Homo sapiens: one gene and its partners. The protein of the gene in region 1 purifies or fractionates together with the protein of each later gene. This does not show direct contact. Each region holds a gene or a part of one and is shown on either strand. Other genes may lie near its edges.

Region 1 (7,119 bases):
CTAAGGCTCATTTTGTTCATATTTTCAGTTTTAAAAATCCCTTTTCCTCTACTATTCAACCAATTCTGGTTAATATCAGGGACAATAAAGTTTAAAAAATATTTGCCTTATGGGCTATATGAGCACATTCAAGGACTAAAATTTTGAGGTATTTTGATAATAGCTAAATAGCAAGAGCTAAATATAAATATTCATAGATGAAAAGTTTTGACAAATTTTTCTTTGGACTTGCCTCAGGAACTAGGATTTAGAATAACCATAAATTAAAGGACTCTTCCAAGCATTTTTATCATATATATATAAATAGCAAGAGAAAAATATTTTCAGTTTTAAAAAAAGGATAAAAGTGACAAAAAAGGAAAAGCAGGAATAATGCTAATACATTTGGTTTTACTTACCTTGCAAGTGTTCTACTGTCCTGTTAGAACAAACCACTGACTGTTACAAAAGTAACATTAGTTACATCATACTGTATTAGATGGAATATGCTAATTTCTCTCTTGTAAAACAGTCTGGAGGTAGATAGTCCACGCCACTTATGGTGTTTCTTCAATGAGGTCGTACAGGGACCAGGATCCTTCTGTTGTTTTTCTTCTACAATGGTGTGTTGCCTCCTCTTCAGGGTCCAAGATGGCTCACTACCAGATCCACATTCCAAGCAACAGGATGGAGAAAGGGGCAAATAAATGGTCATGCCATTTTAAGGACACAAAAAATCGTTTCCCCTCACATTCCATTGTCCAGAACACAGTCATACCTGCACAGGAGACTGGGAAATGTAGTCTTTATTCTAGGAGGCATACCCACTTGAAAAATCAAAGGTTCTATCATTATGTGAAAAGTAAAGAATGGATATTGAAGGAAAATTGGTGCTCTCTGCACATCTCTTATTTAGATATTTGTACAGAAATTCAAACTTGAAAATCATTCTACTGGGAATATGACAGGAATGACTAGCTGACATACCAACTATTCTGGGTTTTCATTTATAAAGGATTAGTTTACTTCCTTTGTTCATCCAAAAGCAATGAAATGCAAAACATTACCTGAATGAGTTCCACGCTATGTTTTATTGGTATAAAACCAAAATAAGATGATGTAATACTCTGGTCTACCAGTTAGTTAGCTATTTAGACCTAGGTGAAAAAAAAATATTTTTAAGGAAAGAAGAAAAATCTTTTACTTATAATAAAATACTGATTAGTCTTGTCAATTTATCTGACCAAAACAAAAATAGTTCTTTAATTTTTATCAAATAAGTAAAAAGTCAATAATAATATTGTTACTTCTGAAAAAATTCATAAAACTGAAAGGCAGAGAAAAATTTCTCCAGCCATCAGTATATTTTTCTCCTTTATTAAGGGAGAAAAAAGGTCTTCATGATTCTGCTAAAAGACATCACCTAACAACGCAAGGGGTAGTCAGGGAATGTCTTAAATCTATATCCTATTGATGAATACCCTTTTGCTCTTCCTATGCAGGAAGACTATTTAAGGTCATGTTACACAGCAGCTACATGATCTGGTGCAACACAACTATAATCAGTTTGCTTCTGCCTGATGCAAAAGCTCTCAACTCCTAGTCAGTGTTATGTCCAAAGTTGTCCTTCATCTAATATATTAAATACTACCCTCATGTGATCTTAGAGCATCAATCAAAGCTACAAAAAAGATATATCTAAAGTTATTTTTGTTTGAAATACACATGGCCCAAGTTTCCATTTTCTGAAAAAGGCAGAACCCAAAAGTTACATATTATGAAAGCCACTTTAATTATTATTTAGATGACCCCAGATGTATGAGTGCCATTATTGTTGTATAGCTATGAAACAGATCATCATCTTTTACCTCATTACATTTCCTCAATATAAAGTTCCCAGTGACTATCCGATCACATCCAATTTCTCCATTTCCAAAGAAGCCGAATAAGGGAACACTAGGAAAAAACTTTCTAAATGCATCAGCCTCAACATTCCCCTTGGCTCTGTAATACTGAAAGCCCCTGCCAACGCATGCAAACATGAAGCCAATGGTGTTATGCTCTGGAATGTTGGCCGCTTTGAGGCGCTGCATCGCAGCCTCAGCAGTCTTCTCATCACTGACGTCCTCGTTGAGGAGCACAGTGGCACTCTGGATTCGGTGTCCACTAAATGACAGTCCAACCACACCCGAGGCATCAATATCCAGAGGGTTCCTGGAAAATTTAGAAAAGTGGCAATATCTCATGAAACATTAAAATTTTTAAGTATAGAAGCAAAATCCTCCTGATTCACTGACGGGAGGCTGCTGCCTTTAGCAGCCTATGGTTAATCTGAGGCTCACCCTCATAGGTGAGTAAAATAGGGTCAAAAATCAAAATTAATACATAAAAAATGCACAAGGCAGATCAAGAGAAGCCACCATTTTTTTCAGTCACAAATACAAAGGGGCAATGCACATCCATAACGATTTCTGAAACCCATATCCGGTTATTAGAAAGTACAGTTTCCTTACCTTTCTGACTTCCTTAAAAGGAATGTTATAATTTTATTAATATACACAAAGATATCCACTAAACGAAGCCTTCTGCTATTGTTTACATTAACATCTCTTCCCCCCGACTTCAGCTGTCAAATTCTGAAAGATGTATATTAAAAATATAATAATGGAGGGTGATTTTATTTTTTTAGAGATAGGGTTCTCTGTTAGCTAGGCTGAAGTGCAGTGGCACAATCATAGCTCACTGCAGCCTCAAACTCGTGGGATAAAGCAATCCTCCTGCCTGAGTCTCTCAAGGAGCTGGGGCTACAGATACATGCCACCACACCTGGCTAATCTGTAAACATTTTGTAGAGATAGGGTCTCACTATGTTGCTCAGACTGGTCTCAAACTCCTGGGCTCAAGCAATCCTCCTGCCTCAGCCTCCCAAAGTTCTGGGATTACAGGCATGAGCCACTGCACTCAGAGGATAATTTTAAAAACCTATTAACTCTAGAAGTTTTAGCTTTATGTCTAGTCCACTAGAAAATATGATTATGTTATTTTTTTGTCTTGTTTATTGCTTTGAGTCTAGAGTTCAGCTTAATTTGATGGTAAAAACTCATGCTTTGTTTTTGTTTATATTTGCCTGGTTTTTTTAAAAAATGAAATATCCTTACAAAAGAAAATACAACATTGATAAAAGTAATAAAGCATAATATAGTGAACATCCACTAGGGGATAAACAAGTATTGTATCATGCTTCCAACATCTGAATCTATAAAATGGGCAAGAGTCACTGGATTAGTGAGAAACTAAGACGCAAAAAGGTTAAGTGACTAAAGTAATAAGGCTAGCTAGTAGTAAAACAAGTTTGTGAGGGGCAAAATCCGTCTTCTGAAGTCCTCTGCTGCTCTTAAAACTTTATCACATTTCCTCTTTGGTACAGAATTGTTAATATACATTGTCAATCTTGCCTCAAAGAATTATACATCTTCCTTTTGGGGCACTGGGTCAGTTGGGTTATCTGGACTTTATTAAAATGGAGCCCTCATTTACTCAATGGTTTCTCTTAACCACTGACAGAGTATGAAGACCACATTAAAATTAATGGGTCATGTGAAGAGTAATGATTGGGGTGGGGGGTGTTTCTCTTATTAGGTATAAAAAGTAGATGATATACAAATAGCTACACTTACAAGCTAGCACCTCAGATGTTATAAGTCTGAGTGAGGTATCTGCATTTCAAAGGTAAACTGTATGTTGAATCACCATTGCCCTATCCGTACACAATTTAAGTTAATAGCAAAGACACAGGAAAAATTAGGCAAGAGGGGAAATAACTTAGATAGCCACCAAGAATTCAGTGTATGTATGCACAAAATCCAGTGTTTGATATCCTGCCTGGGATTCAACGTACTTGGCCTTCCTCTCTTCCTCCTCCCTGGCAGTCCAGGGACCTCAACTTTAGCTATTTTCCCAGATCTAGCTCATAGAGATAACCAGAAGAGAGACTATAACTAGGATGACTTACATTATTCTTATAGATACTGATCTGCAACAGTCTGTCCCCATGTCACCACTCTAGGATGCAAATATTAAACAGAGTGGGAAACAAATAGTAGTGTTTACAAGCATTGAGGGTGGGGTAGGGTCTGATTTTCCTGCTGGAAACAAATGATATTTATGTCCACCTAATTGTTTCAAACTCAAAATGATATGTATTTTCATTCAAGATGGAAAGGAAGTAATGGCTCCCAAGACAGAAGAGCAAATATTTTTATCTTTGAAAGCAAAAGCCTTAGTAACAAAAAAGATCCACAATTTTTAAGCTTGAAAAAGCCTTTCAAAAGATCTAATACAGAATTTCCAAAAACCAGTACGACTTGCAAGACATTCTGTGGAAAAAAGTTTTGTGACCAAACACATTTGGGAACTGTCACAGGTAATGCTATTCTCCTTCCAGATTTCCACAGCACTGGGCATATTAGAAGCTCTGAGAAGTTTTGCCATAAAGATACACTCTAACCATGTGTTTCCTTTAAAGGAGGAAACTAGAAAGGAGGTGACACATTGAGGTCACACAGAGTACCACATCTGTCAAAGGAAAGATCAACAGGCAATGTCAAATTTTAAGGAGAATGTGACTCAAGGAAGTTCTTGAAGGACAATATATATAAAAATGTAATTATTCAACCGTAAGCAGAATTATGTTCAGTAAGCCCCTTAGCCAATGTCTACTACAAAATGGAATGAACTATTATCTTAATAATTCTTTAAACACGTTTTTTAAATTGTTAACCCCAAAGTGACAAAACCTGAGACCATTTCCCTTCATTCACAGACGAAATCAGAAGCACACAAGACATACTTTTCAGAAGTCAGTGATGACAGGTTGTCCACCTGGCCTCCAGCCAAGATGATATTCATATCACTGAAAGTGCTGACTACTTGCTGCAGATAATTACTGGCTCCCACCTTACAGCAATTATAACCAAAGACAAGGACCACACGAAGTTCAGGGTTATCTAAAAGACCTGCAGAGAAATGAAGAGCAACAGTTAAAGACAGCCTTAAAACAGAAATTATTTTATACATGCTGCAAAATGAAATGTTACTGACTTGCACTCCACCTTAAGGGCAATTTAGTGGCTTAAGCTATCAAATTTTCCATTTTTTATTTTTTATCTTATTTTATATCCTCTTCGATCTCTGTATCAAGTTTTCCATTTTTTACAAACATTATGCAAAATCTTAATTATTTTTTCTATTAAAAAAACTAAATGGCTATTTGTGTTAATAAATAATGCAATCAACACAAATAATGAAGCAGCTATGTACTGAGCAGCAACTCTTGGTAGACCAAGGTGCAAGCTGGCTCTCAGTAGGGAACAAAAAAAAAAAAACACTGGTTTACACAGAGCTGTGCTAGCAGCAGTGAGAATTTACAGATTTTTTATTTTTTAAAGGAGAGAAAAGGCGCTAACCACTTATAGTGTGGTGAACAGTGCCCCCTGCCCATGCCAAAGGTATATCCACATCAAACCTCTGGAACCTATGCATGTAAGCTTATTTGGAAAAAGGATCTTTAAAAAAAATTTTTTTTTTTTTGGTAGAGATGGGGTCTCGCTATGTTAGTAAGGATCTTAAGATTAAATCATCTGGTCTATCCACGTGGGCTCTAAATCCAATGACAGTGTCCTCATAATGAAAGATGTACAAAGGAGAGACAGAGAAGAAAAGGCAGTGTGACCACAGAAGCAGAAACTGGAGCGGTAGGAAGAGAAAAAGAACAGACTCTCCCCTACAGCCTCCCAAGGTAGCACTACCCCTACTGCCATCTCAATTTCAGACTTCTGGCCTCCTGAACTGTGCAGAATAAATTTCTCGTTTTATGTCACCAAATTTGGGGTACTTTGTTACAGCAGCCTAAGAAACTACTACATCACTGAAATACAGGCTTTATTCACCTCCTCCACGGAAGCAGGTGAGAGTAAAGGCGAATTAGCCTTTGAAAGTTCCTTGCAAAGCAGGAAAATGTTCAATTCTGTGACACAGGAACTAAAAGCTGCTACCGCTAGGAGGTGGCAGAGTGTAACAGAGACAGCCTACTTGCTCTGCCCACAGCTCCCAGGTTTCACTGGAGCCTCTGGCAGCTTGTTTATAGACTATCAATTTGATTTTTTTTTTAAGTTCAGGGATACATGTTCAGGTTTGTTCCACAGGCAAACGTGTGTCATGGGGGTTTGTTGTGCAGATTATTTCATCACCCAGGTAATAAGCCCATTCTCCATTAGTTATTTTTCCTGATCCTCTCCTTCCTCACACCCTCCACCCTCTGGTAGGCCCCAGTGTCTGTTGTGCCCCTCTTTGCGTCGATGTATTCTCATCATTTAGCTCCCACTTATAAATGAGAACATGCAGTATTTGGTTTTCTGTTTCTGTGTTAGTTTGCTAATGATAATGGCCTCCAGCTCCATCCATGTCCCTGCAAAGGACGTGATCTCATTCTTTTTTATGGCTGCATATGTACTACATTTTCTTTATCCAGTTTATCACTGATGGGCATTCAGGTTGATTCCATGTCTTTGCTACTGTGAATAGTGCTGCAATGAACATACATGTGCATGTGTCTTTATAACAGAATAATTTATATTCCTTTGAATATATACCCAGTAATAGGACTGCTGGGTCAAATGGTATTTCTGTCTTTAGGTCTTTGAGGAATCACCACACTATCTTCCACAATGGCTGAACTAATTTACACTCCCACCGACAGTGTATAAGTGTTCCTTTTTCTCCACAAACTTGCCAGCATCTGTTATTTTTTGACTTTTTAATAGCCATTCTGCCTAGTATGGGATACGATCTCATTGTGGTTTTGATTTGCATTTCTCTAATGATCAGTGATGTGGAGCTTTTTTTCCTATGATTGTTGGCCGCATGTATGTCTTCTGCCAGCATTACCAAACGGGTGCTTTGGGGACAGGAAAATGAATCTAATACCTAACACACTTGTGTTTCCATTTGATTTGACCACATGACTTCCACCTTGACAAACCTAAGGTGGTTACCAGAAAGGAGAGTTACTTAAGGAAACAAAGGGTATGCAGATGCGTGAATGACCAATTACTAACACCAAATAATGACCTATTCTGGGAA
Region 2 (3,989 bases), on another chromosome or scaffold:
ACCCAAGTCCTGCACCTATTCATTGCCCCCCTCCCTGCTCTGTGGTTCCCCATCCTTGTCCACTTTGACCTCAGGGATCTACCAGCCAAAGGAGATTGGGTCTTCCTCCAGGGAAGCTTCTCACCAACTAGACAGCTCGGAGAGCAATCTGAGGATCCCACTGGAGGTTGAGTCCCTTGCTTTTCAAGCACCTAAAATGCACCCATCCTTCCCACTGGTTCCACAATTTGTATAGAGCACAGATGCTGGCATGAACTTAGGCCAGTTCAACAAAGATGTATCAAATGGGGCAGCAGTGAGAGATACTCTGTTGAGAGGACTCATTGGTCTGGTGCTTCCTCTGTTACCTCATCTTGCCCGTCTCTAAGGCAGAGCAAGCACAACAAAGAGGTGCTCAGAGCCAGAAGTGTCCCTGCTCCCATGACCCACCATACTTGGCCTAATACAGAGCTTGACAAGCAAAGGACCCACTCTCTGGAACTTCCTAGGGAATGCCTTACTGATTTGTCTTAAAATACACAGCCCCGCTCCAGAGCCTATGACTCTAGATACACCCCCCAGCCTGACGTGGGCCACGTGGGCTCCTTGGGGCAGACAGCCAATCCTCTGCTCAACACATTTTATTGCTAAGGACAAGGTGATGCACCAGTTTTCAAAATAATTTGGTTTATAGTGTTCATACGTAACAAAAAAGGGGAAGTATTATAAATCTGATTCTTGTATACACAGGGTATTGGTGTGAAGCCCTCCAATCCTGGGCCCAGGCAAACAAATTCTTGAGGAGCAAAAACCTGTTTAACCCCTTCAGTATTGCCCTCTAGTCCCACCCCCCACCCCAAAATCAGCTCCCTCCCACCTACAGTGGGCCTCCAATGGCCCCAGTTTTTTCATCCTAACCCTCCCAGCCCCTGCATGATTGCAATTTTCTGTTGACAGAATCACCCACCAGGCTCTGCCTGCTTCCATCATTAAAATCCCCGATTCAGGGTAATCCCCACCCACACCCTGTAATACTTTGCCACAGGGGCTCTGCACCTAGAGTGTTGTGGGCACACACCCATGTTATCCCCATGTTCTCCTTTAGGGGAAGACAAAGAGGTGGCATCAGCTCCTTAGCATCTCAATACTGCAGCTTTGCCAGCACTGTCTTGAGACGGTTCCAGGCCTGGACAGATGCCACACCCATCTCCAGCCAACCCCCAGGAGCCCTTACTCAGCTCAGCTGAGGGCAGAATTTCACATTTTGTTTGCCCTGCATAGGCAAGGAAGAAAGTAAAGGCCAGGGGCTGGCAGAAGCTGGTCCAGACCAAACATACACGCACGCACGCACGCACGCACACACACACACACATATAAATACAAAAGTAGGGGTTGGGGCAAGTACCAGCACCTCAGCCTAGTCGGTGCAGGTGATAGTTATGAAGCTAAGTCCTAGGCCAGGAACAAGGCAGCCAGTCCAGCCAGCATAGTTGACCCCTCTATGGACTGGGGCCAGTGCAGCCACAGCATTCCAGTGCTCAGCCCCTCAGCTGGGAGATCAGCGACTGCTGCCACGTGCCCAGAAATGGCTCGTCCTTTCACTACAGCGGAATGCAATGAGGGTGGGTGAGAAGATGATGGGTCGGTTATTTCATTCCTTTTCTTTTTACAACTTCACTTTCAGAGACTTCAGCGTTCCATGTCTGCTGTGCTGTGGAACCCAGAGTGCTCTTGCCTGGATGGCTGAGAATCCCTTGGACCCTGGAAGCACCTACTCCATGATGGCCCGGTATAGTGCAGGCTCAATATAATCTTCCCGGTATCTTGAGTTGATAACTCGTTGCCGTTTCTTTTCTTGCTTAACCTCTTTCTCTGTGAAAATCTCATTGAAGCGCATGTCTGAGGCTACTGACTATAGAAGAATAAGCAAGCCAAGTGTCAGCTACCCCAGGAACAATACAAAGGGATGCATCCTTGACTTGTTCCCTCCCTCCAAGACAGGAACTGGGGGGACACAGAAAATACTCACCAGTCTAGATTTGACTCTCTTGGGAAGCTCTTCATCCAGTGTGTATACATCATCTCTCTTAACCACAAGTTGTGAGCCATCCTCAAACTCCACCTACCAAGGAAACAAAGGCCTTTTGGCTAGGATATCCCTGACTCTTTCCCTGGTCCACCATGCACAGTGGCAGTCCCCTACAGTCAAAGGAAGGAGTTAGAACACTAAAATAACAACTACCTTACTTCACATTTGGCAGACTGGAAACAGGGCAGACCCCTAGCTCTGAAAGGGTTACCAACCTATTAGTTCTCCTAAGAGCAAAGACTCGCCTCTGGCCCAACAGGAAGCACAGAATTAATCAAGCACCCCCCACTCCCTAGAAAGGTAGAACTTTGGATACCTGGTACATTTGGATAGGGTGGGAGGCCACAAACTTGGCTCCATAGACTTGGCCGTCTGTCCATCTCACTTGGACCACTTCCCCTTCAGCAGGAGGACCAAACTGGAGACAGTCCTGGCTCTGAGGAAACAGGAAGGAAGGAGGGTGAAAGGAACGTCCACCTGCACACAAAGGTAACTGTCCTCTACTCAGGGAAGAGTGAACCAGGACAAAGTAACTGTTTTAGAGAGCAAGGCAGCTCTCTGGGCTGAAAAATGTTAACAGTTAAAGACCTTGCTAAGTCAAAGTCTGCCCCTATCTCTGCCCTCTCCTGCTTCTAGGTGACCAAAAAAAAAAAAAAAATCCAGCTATAACAAACTTAGTAAACACAGGAGTTAAGTGCCAGAATCAAGAGTCCTTCTTACATTCCCTCAACTGTTCCCCTGCGGGTTCTCCAGGGCTCTGCCATGAAGAAATACTAGAACCATACTCAACTATAAGACATGTGTTTTTTTTGGCCAGGCACGGTGGCTCATGCCTGTAATCGCAGCACTTTGGGAGGCTGAGGCAGGCAGATCACCAGGTCAGGAGATCAAGACCATCCTGGCTAACATGGTGAAACCCCATCTCTACTAAAAATGCAAAAAATTAGCCAGGTGTGGTGGCAGGCGCCTGTAGTCCCAGCTACTCGGGAGTCTGAGGCAGGAGAATGGTGTGAACCCAGGAGGCGGAGCTTGCAGAGAGCTGAGATCACGCTGGAATACAGTGGCCTGATCTTGGCTCATTGCAACCTCAGCCTCCTGGGTTCTAGCAATCCTCCTGCCTCAGCCTCCCGAGTAGCTGGGACAACAGGCACGTGCCACCATGCCCAGCTAATCTTTGTATTTTTAGTAGAGACGGGGTTTCACCATGTTGGCCAGTCTGGTCTCGAACTCCTTACCTCAGGTGATCTGCCTGCCTCGGCTTGCCAAAGTGGTGGGATTACAGGCATGAGCCACTGTGCCCAACCAAGAAATATGTTCTTAACAGGAAAGATGAAAAAGAGTCACCTACCATGGGACCTGGCAAAGTACTTCAGAACTTTTATTCCTTCCAGAAGCAGGTAAGTACCCCAAGTCCTCATCGTATTCCCAGCATAGGGCTTGGTATACGGGGGGATATTTCATTCAGCATATTGGCTGAATGAAAGGTCTGATAGGTATACCTGGGAGAAGGTCCTTAGGGACATGGCTTAAAAAATGAGAGAGGGGCAGGGCAGTGAGTCTAAAAGGATGTGGATGCTCACATCTGCTCTTACAATCATGCTACAGTTCATTTATTGAGTGGAAACAGTTCCCTACTTATTGACAATTCATTTACTGAATAGGTAATCAGTAAATACATTTTGTATCAATCTAACAATTAGGCATAAACTACAGCCTCCTACACCCAATATCTGAGGTGTTCTAAGATTTAACTACTCAAATGTTTGATATTTGATAAATTGTTTAAGTTCTCTGCAATTCAGTTCCACCTCCTATAACAGCACTTCTGAAAATGTGGTCTGTGAACCTCTGAGGGGTTCCTGAGACACTGTCAGGGAGCAAGTGAGACATGGCTATTTTTATAATATTAAACTATTAGCCT
Region 3 (7,105 bases), on another chromosome or scaffold:
GGCAGGTCGGACTGGACTCCGAGGAGGGGAGGTTGAGCCAGGACCTCTAGAACACCATGGAAGTTTACTCCAGAGATCAGGCTGAGCATGTGCCAGTCTCTCTCCCTCCCTCAAGAAACCTATGGAGATGATAGAAAACACACAAATAGATAAATAGCCATTTATAACGTACACAGAGCACAACTGTGGTGGAAAATGACAAGGGAGACTCAGGGTGGGTCTTGACAACATCCCACAGAAGAGGCGCTGACGCAGCCCCCACCCTGGTGGCGAAGGAAGTGCTCCCAGGATCATTGTCATGTCACCAGAGCCCAGGCAGGGCCAGCGTCAGGGGAGCTCACCTCAAGGAAGCCGAGCTAATGAGACAGTCAGAAATGAGATGATGCCAGCCAGGCGCGGGGGCTCATGCTGTGATCGCAGCACTGTGGGAGGCTGAGGTGGGCAGAGCGCTTGAGCACAGGGGTTCGAGACCAGCCTGGGCAACGCAGCAAAACCCTGTCTCTACAAAAAAACAAAATTAGCTGGGCATGGTGGCACGCACCTTTAGTCCCAGCTACTTGGGAAGCTGAGGTGGGAGGATCACTTGAGCCTGGGAGGTTGAGGATTCAGTGATCCAAGATCGCGCCACTGCACTCCAACCCGGGTGATGAAACAAAGCCCTGTCTCAAAAAAAAAAAAAAAAAAAAGTCACATTTCCAGAGTGCTCGGGGCGGGGGGGCAGAGGCTGTGGAATCAGGAATGGGTGGTATCGGAAGCCAGCAAGCCACCGTGGAGTGCGCGCCTGCCTGCGAGGTGGCGGCAGGACCTCGATCACACAATCATGCAAACGCCCGCTGTGTGGTGGCCAAGGAGATGGGGCTGGAGCTGCCTGCCCCGAGGCCAAGGGCCTGGTCAGCGGGGCGGGTGGCTGGGGTGGGCCCAGGTGACAGCGAGGCCGAGTGGCTGAGACCCCCACATGCCAAGGCCCCAAGAGCCTCCCCGCCTGTCCGGAACACTTGGAACATGTTTCCCTCGCACGTGACCCCTCGAGATGCTTCTGAGACGTGCCGGGCAAGACGTCACCACAGGGAGCCCGGGCCGAGGCGCACGCCTCTGATTTCCTGTAGCTGCAAGTATATCCAGTTTTCTCAAAATGTTAAAAAGCAAACGCCGCCTTCAGAACTCGCCCTGTGGAGACTCATAGTGAAAGCACGTTCCAGGGAGGCCACTGGGAGGAAATCAGCCTGAGTCTCCAGTCAGCCCCCAGTTCCCAAATGACCCAGGCACAGAAGTTTCCCTGGAGCCCACTTGGACCCGGCAGTGTGAGCGCCATCCTCCTAGGCGGTTCTGTGCTCCTGAGAATCTGGGGCGGATCTCTGCAGTCTTCCTGACCCAGAAACCTGAGCCAGTTTCCACTGAGTTTCTAGAACGCGCCTTCCCCTCCTGGCAAGGCTGCTTCTGTGCCTGACTGAATCACTGTGTGCCACGCCTGCCAGAAGCCGAGAGGCCGAGTCGGGGCCGGGGAGCTGGGGAAAGGCAGCAGGTGGGCCCTGGGACTCCTGCAGTGGGAGCTCTAAAACCCGCTGCTGCCCGTGGCAAAGCGGAGCCTCCAAAACCCGCTGCTGCCCTTGGCAAAGCGGAGCCTCCAAAACCCGCTGCTGCCCGTGGCAAAGCGGAGCCTGGCCACGCCGGGGGTGGAAATCGCTTTCCGGGGTGCTGGGGCTCCGACACTAGGACTCCTTCACCCAGACTCTCCTCACCGGACAGACGCTGGGAAGGGGCCTTCTCCCGGTGGCTTTCCTCTACAAATGAGATGGGTAGGACGGGGCAGAGGGTGGCACCCATGTCCTTGGTTCCCAGCAGGCTCCTCCACACATCCCCGAGAGATGTGTGCTGTCGTCCCAGGACACGGCCCAGAGGCAACCGGCCATCTGAGAGTCCACACTGGGCACTCCCAGCCCTGCTTCTCCCGCCGCCTGCGCCGGCCAAGAGGCATGTGGAACCCACAGCAGACACTTGCTCCAGGGCCTACGTCTGTCTCCATCCCCACCCATCCCTGGAGGAGTCACAGGGACCGGCAGGCTTGGCTGCCCCAAGGCAGGGTCTGTGCTCCCTTGGAGAGGGAGGTGCTGCGATCCCGGGCCCCCCCGCTGCACACTACGTGGGGCGTCTAGCCCCAGACACACTTCCGCGATGGTCTTACTGTGTGACTTTTATACACTTCCGTCATGGTCTTAGTGTGTGACTTTTGTACGCTTCTGTGACAGTCTTATGTGTGCATTTTGTTCATTTTGAGACGGGGTCTTGATCTGTCACCCAGCCTGGAGTGCAGTGACATAATTAGAGCTCACTACAGCCTCCACCTCAGCCTCCTGGGTAGCTGGGACCACAGGCACATGCCACCATGCCTGGCTTGTTTTGAGTTTTTAAATGTGAAAAGCGAGCCCTCTGATATGGGAACCTTCTCCCCCTGGAGCAGAACGGCAGTCAGGCCCAGGGAGTGACCCCAGCACCTTTCCTGGCTTGGGAACACGGCGCCCATCGCAGTTATGAGGTGGGCCTGGAGACACGCCCCTCCCTGGCACGCCCTTCATGGGACAGTGTTGTGTTGCCAGAGGGCCCCTGAGAGAGTCTCCGCGAGCCTGAGCTGGCACCAAGCTTAACGAGGAGGAAGCGGGGTGCTCCCAGTGCCCCTCACCAGTCAGGCATCTGCCACCTGGAACAAGGCACCAGCTGGGGAGGCTGGAAGGGGGTGATTTTTCTCTGAGTTGAAGGGAAGAGGTGACTGAGCTGTTTTCAGAGGGCCACACATAAGCCAGGGACCCTGTCCTTCACCTTCTGGTTGGGGGCTCCTGAGCTCAGGCCCCTGAGTCCGCCTGTCCGGCCTCCCCTGCCTCCCAGGCCCTGTTAGGGCACTGCGCCTCCTGCCTGGCTCTGTGTCCACCAGTGACTCTGTCACCTTGTCCTGGGGCTGTGTCTTCATGGAGACAGATGTCTTTTGAGCTGGGAGGAGGTGAGGGGTGAGTGTTCTGTCTCCATGTGGAAGCTGCGGGGCCCTGCCTCTGCCCCAGGCTGTCCCGTCCTCCGTCATCCTTGCCCCGTGGTACGGGACCCTCAGCCTGATCCTTGTTTGCTGCAGGCGGTGTCAGAGGTGGACATGAGCTTCAGCTTGGCTGCATGTGGCCTCTAGCGGGCCCCATGCACCCAAGGGGGCTGGCCTCCCAGCTCTTGAGGCCGTGGCCTGCCTGGAGCACCTGCCATCCTGGCAGTGCCAGGCCCCTGAGAGCCACATCCCCCTGCAGGTGGAGTTTGAGGACGGGTCCCAGCTGACGGTGAAGCGTGGGGACATCTTCACCCTGGAGGAGGAGCTGCCCAAGAGGGTCCGCTCTCGGCTGGTGAGTGCGCGAGGCTGGCCTGGTGGCTCCGGGTGACTCAGGGAGCCCGTCTGGGACGAGGCAGGGCACAGACTGCGTCTTCCAATGGCGTGGACCACCCCCTCCTCTTGCACCTCTGCTGGAAGGGGGTCCCGGCCGCCCCAGCACAGCTGGTCCATGGGCTCCTGGCAGGAGACCCTTCCTTTGCCTTGACTCCTGGTGCCGCAGCTCCTGGGCGATGCCGTTAATGTGGGGAGGGAGGGTTGGAGAAGCCCCGCCCCTCCCCTTATCACGAATGCAGAACAGACCCTCCCAGCCCCCTGTGCCCTGCAGGACCCGCGCTGCCCCACCCTGCACAGGGCGGCCTCTGAACCATCACAGGTTTTGGGGTACAGGCGAAGTACGGGCACCCCAGTTGTCGGCTTAAAAAAGCTTTTCCTGAGGTTTTTCCTTATTAAACGGGAGCCTGAGTCCTGGAGGCAGCGGAGGCAGCTCCAGCTTTCGCTCCCCCAGCCCTCATGGGCTTCCTTTATTCTCTTTCTAATCGAGAGGCGAGAGGCGAGGTGTTGAGGGGCAGAGCCCGTGGGGGAGGTTCCTGGTCCTGGCCACAGCTGCTCAGCCGCAGAGGGGTCCCTCGGAAAACAGATGGGAGCTGCCAGATGGACGGTCCCAGCCCCAGCCAGGGTGCCCACCCCACTAGGGGGCCAGAGGCTGGGGCCGAGTGCAGGGCCCCTCTGCTGGCAGGATCAGGGGTTTACAAACACGAAAACAGGAGCCTGCTGAGCAGCCCCCACAGCAATCAGGGCTCTGTGTCCAGCCAGCTCCTCTCAGAGGCCATAGACAGTGGCTGGGGCCGCACAGAGTGTCTCCACCGTGCTAACCACTGTGCTTCCGCTCTCCCGCAGTCACTGAGCACGGGGGCACCGCAGGAGCCCGCCTTCTCGGGGGAGGAGGCCAAGGCCGCCAAGCGCCCGCGTGTGGGCACCCCGCTTGCCACGGAGGACTCCGGGCGGAGCCAGGACTACGTGGCCTTCGTGGAGAGCCTCCTGCAGGTGCAGGGCCGGCCCGGAGCCCCCTTCTAGGACAGCTGGCCGCTCAGGCGACCCTCAGCCCGGCGGGGAGGCCATGGCATGCCCCGGGCGTTCGCTTGCTGTGAATTCCTGTCCTCGTGTCCCCGACCCCCGAGAGGCCACCTCCAAGCCGCGGGTGCCCCCTAGGGCGACAGGAGCCAGCGGGACGCCGCACGCGGCCCCAGACTCAGGGAGCAGGGCCAGGCGGGCTCGGGGGCCGGCCAGGGGAGCACCCCACTCAACTACTCAGAATTTTAAACCATGTAAGCTCTCTTCTTCTCGAAAAGGTGCTACTGCAATGCCCTACTGAGCAACCTTTGAGATTGTCACTTCTGTACATAAACCACCTTTGTGAGGCTCTTTCTATAAATACATATTGTTTAAAAAAAAGCAAGAAAAAAAGGAAAACAAAGGAAAATATCCCCAAAGTTGTTTTCTAGATTTGTGGCTTTAAGAAAAACAAAACAAAACAAACACATTGTTTTTCTCAGAACCAGGATTCTCTGAGAGGTCAGAGCATCTCGCTGTTTTTTTGTTGTTGTTTTAAAATATTATGATTTGGCTACAGACCAGGCAGGGAAAGAGACCCGGTAATTGGAGGGTGAGCCTCGGGGGGGGGGCAGGACGCCCCGGTTTCGGCACAGCCCGGTCACTCACGGCCTCGCTCTCGCCTCACCCCGGCTCCTGGGCTTTGATGGTCTGGTGCCAGTGCCTGTGCCCACTCTGTGCCTGCTGGGAGGAGGCCCAGGCTCTCTGGTGGCCGCCCCTGTGCACCTGGCCAGGGGAAGCCCGGGGGTCTGGGGCCTCCCTCCGTCTGCGCCCACCTTTGCAGAATAAACTCTCTCCTGGGGTTTGTCTATCTTTGTTTCTCTCACCTGAGAGAAACGCAGGTGTTCCAGAGGCTTCCTTGCAGACAAAGCACCCCTGCACCTCCTATGGCTCAGGATGAGGGAGGCCCCCAGGCCCTTCTGGTTGGTAGTGAGTGTGGACAGCTTCCCAGCTCTTCGGGTACAACCCTGAGCAGGTCGGGGGACACAGGGCCGAGGCAGGCCTTCGGGGCCCCTTTCGCCTGCTTCCGGGCAGGGACGAGGCCTGGTGTCCTCGCTCCACCCACCCACGCTGCTGTCACCTGAGGGGAATCTGCTTCTTAGGAGTGGGTTGAGCTGATAGAGAAAAAACGGCCTTCAGCCCAGGCTGGGAAGCGCCTTCTCCAGGTGCCTCTCCCTCACCAGCTCTGCACCCCTCTGGGGAGCCTTCCCCACCTTAGCTGTCTCCTGCCCCAGGGAGGGATGGAGGAGATAATTTGCTTATATTAAAAACAAAAAATGGCTGAGGCAGGAGTTTGGGACCAGCCTGGGCTATATAGCAAGACCCCATCACTACAAATTTTTTACAAATTAGCTAGGTGTGGTGGTGCGCACCTGTGGTCCCAGCTACTCGGGAGGCTGTGGTGGGAGGATTGCTTGAGTCCAGGAGGTTGAGGCTGCAGTCAGCTCAGATTGCACCACTGCACTCCAGCCTGGGCAACAGAGCGAGACCCTGTCTCCAAAAAAAAAAAAAAGCAATGTTTATATTATAAAAGAGTGTCCTAACAGTCCCCGGGCTAGAGAGGACTAAGGAAAACAGAGAGAGTGTTACGCAGGAGCAAGCCTTTCATTTCCTTGGTGGGGGAGGGGGGCGGTTGCCCTGGAGAGGGCCGGGGTCGGGGAGGTTGGGGGGTGTCAGCCAAAACGTGGAGGTGTCCCTCTGCACGCAGCCCTCGCCCGGCGTGGCGCTGACACTGTATTCTTATGTTGTTTGAAAATGCTATTTATATTGTAAAGAAGCGGGCGGGTGCCCCTGCTGCCCTTGTCCCTTGGGGGTCACACCCATCCCCTGGTGGGCTCCTGGGCGGCCTGCGCAGATGGGCCACAGAAGGGCAGGCCGGAGCTGCACACTCTCCCCACGAAGGTATCTCTGTGTCTTACTCTGTGCAAAGACGCGGCAAAACCCAGTGCCCTGGTTTTTCCCCACCCGAGATGAAGGATACGCTGTATTTTTTGCCTAATGTCCCTGCCTCTAGGTTCATAATGAATTAAAGGTTCATGAACGCTGCGAAACCCCGTTCCATGCCCCGGCAAGTGTCTTCATTTCTGAGCCTGTGCTAGGGGGACTGATGTTGGGGCCTCCCTGGGGTGGGGCTGCCTGCGCCCCGTTCTCCCGGGAGAAGGTTTGCTTCCAGAGCTGGATGTCCCTCCCCTCCCACTCTCCAGGGTCCCCAACACACCCCCACACACCCAGGGGCAGCTGTCATGCCCCTCATGCTGTGGCCAGGCTGGGTGGCTGGGGCAGCGGACCCCATGATTCCCCCTCAGTTCTCTGGAGGCCTGGCCCTGGCCTCACTCGTCCCAGCCAGCAGCTGCCCTGTCCCTGTCCCCCATCCGGTTCTGGTTACATCTGAGCCCCGAGAGCATTGCTTGTGGTGGTGGTGGCTGGCAGACGTGCTAGGCGCTGGGGCTCACGGCCCTGGATGGCCACTGGGACCCAGCAGTCCTGGCCTGGGTCACTCAGTGCCCAGCCCCACCAGGCCTGGAGTCGGCAGAGGGGACACGGGAGACCTGAGCCTCCCTCAGGGAGGTGACCCTCCTGTGCCTGGTGTGCGGCAAGAACATGAAGAGGCCCCTGTGGCTGGAGCAGAGGGAG

Evidence for each region.
Region 2: the proteins of FBXO22 (region 1) and KDM4A purify together in Homo sapiens (affinity purification with western blotting; 2 studies listed by BioGRID, with this or other methods). This does not show direct contact.
Region 3: the proteins of FBXO22 (region 1) and KDM4B purify together in Homo sapiens (affinity purification with western blotting; 3 studies listed by BioGRID, with this or other methods). This does not show direct contact.

What each region holds. Positions count from the first base shown.
Region 1 is NC_000015.10:75,927,759-75,934,877, reverse strand, and holds part of FBXO22 (F-box only protein 22), read right to left. Parts: intron 4,995-7,119; coding exon 4,829-4,994; coding exon of another isoform or gene 4,792-4,828; exon of another isoform or gene 4,011-4,791; intron 2,194-4,010; coding exon 1,776-2,193; 3' UTR 1-1,775. UniProt on the Homo sapiens protein: Substrate-recognition component of the SCF (SKP1-CUL1-F-box protein)-type E3 ubiquitin ligase complex that is implicated in the control of various cellular processes such as cell cycle control, transcriptional regulation, DNA damage repair, and apoptosis.
Region 2 is NC_000001.11:43,702,132-43,706,120, reverse strand, and holds the end of KDM4A (lysine-specific demethylase 4A), read right to left. Parts: intron 3,466-3,989; exon of another isoform or gene 3,393-3,465; intron 2,558-3,392; exon of another isoform or gene 2,505-2,557; coding exon 2,385-2,504; intron 2,102-2,384; coding exon 2,009-2,101; intron 1,892-2,008; coding exon 1,751-1,891; 3' UTR 603-1,750; downstream 1-602. UniProt on the Homo sapiens protein: Histone demethylase that specifically demethylates 'Lys-9' and 'Lys-36' residues of histone H3, thereby playing a central role in histone code. Does not demethylate histone H3 'Lys-4', H3 'Lys-27' nor H4 'Lys-20'.
Region 3 is NC_000019.10:5,147,077-5,154,181, forward strand, and holds the end of KDM4B (lysine-specific demethylase 4B), read left to right. Parts: intron 1-3,281; coding exon 3,282-3,374; intron 3,375-4,258; coding exon 4,259-4,435; 3' UTR 4,436-6,522; downstream 6,523-7,105. UniProt on the Homo sapiens protein: Histone demethylase that specifically demethylates 'Lys-9' of histone H3, thereby playing a role in histone code. Does not demethylate histone H3 'Lys-4', H3 'Lys-27', H3 'Lys-36' nor H4 'Lys-20'.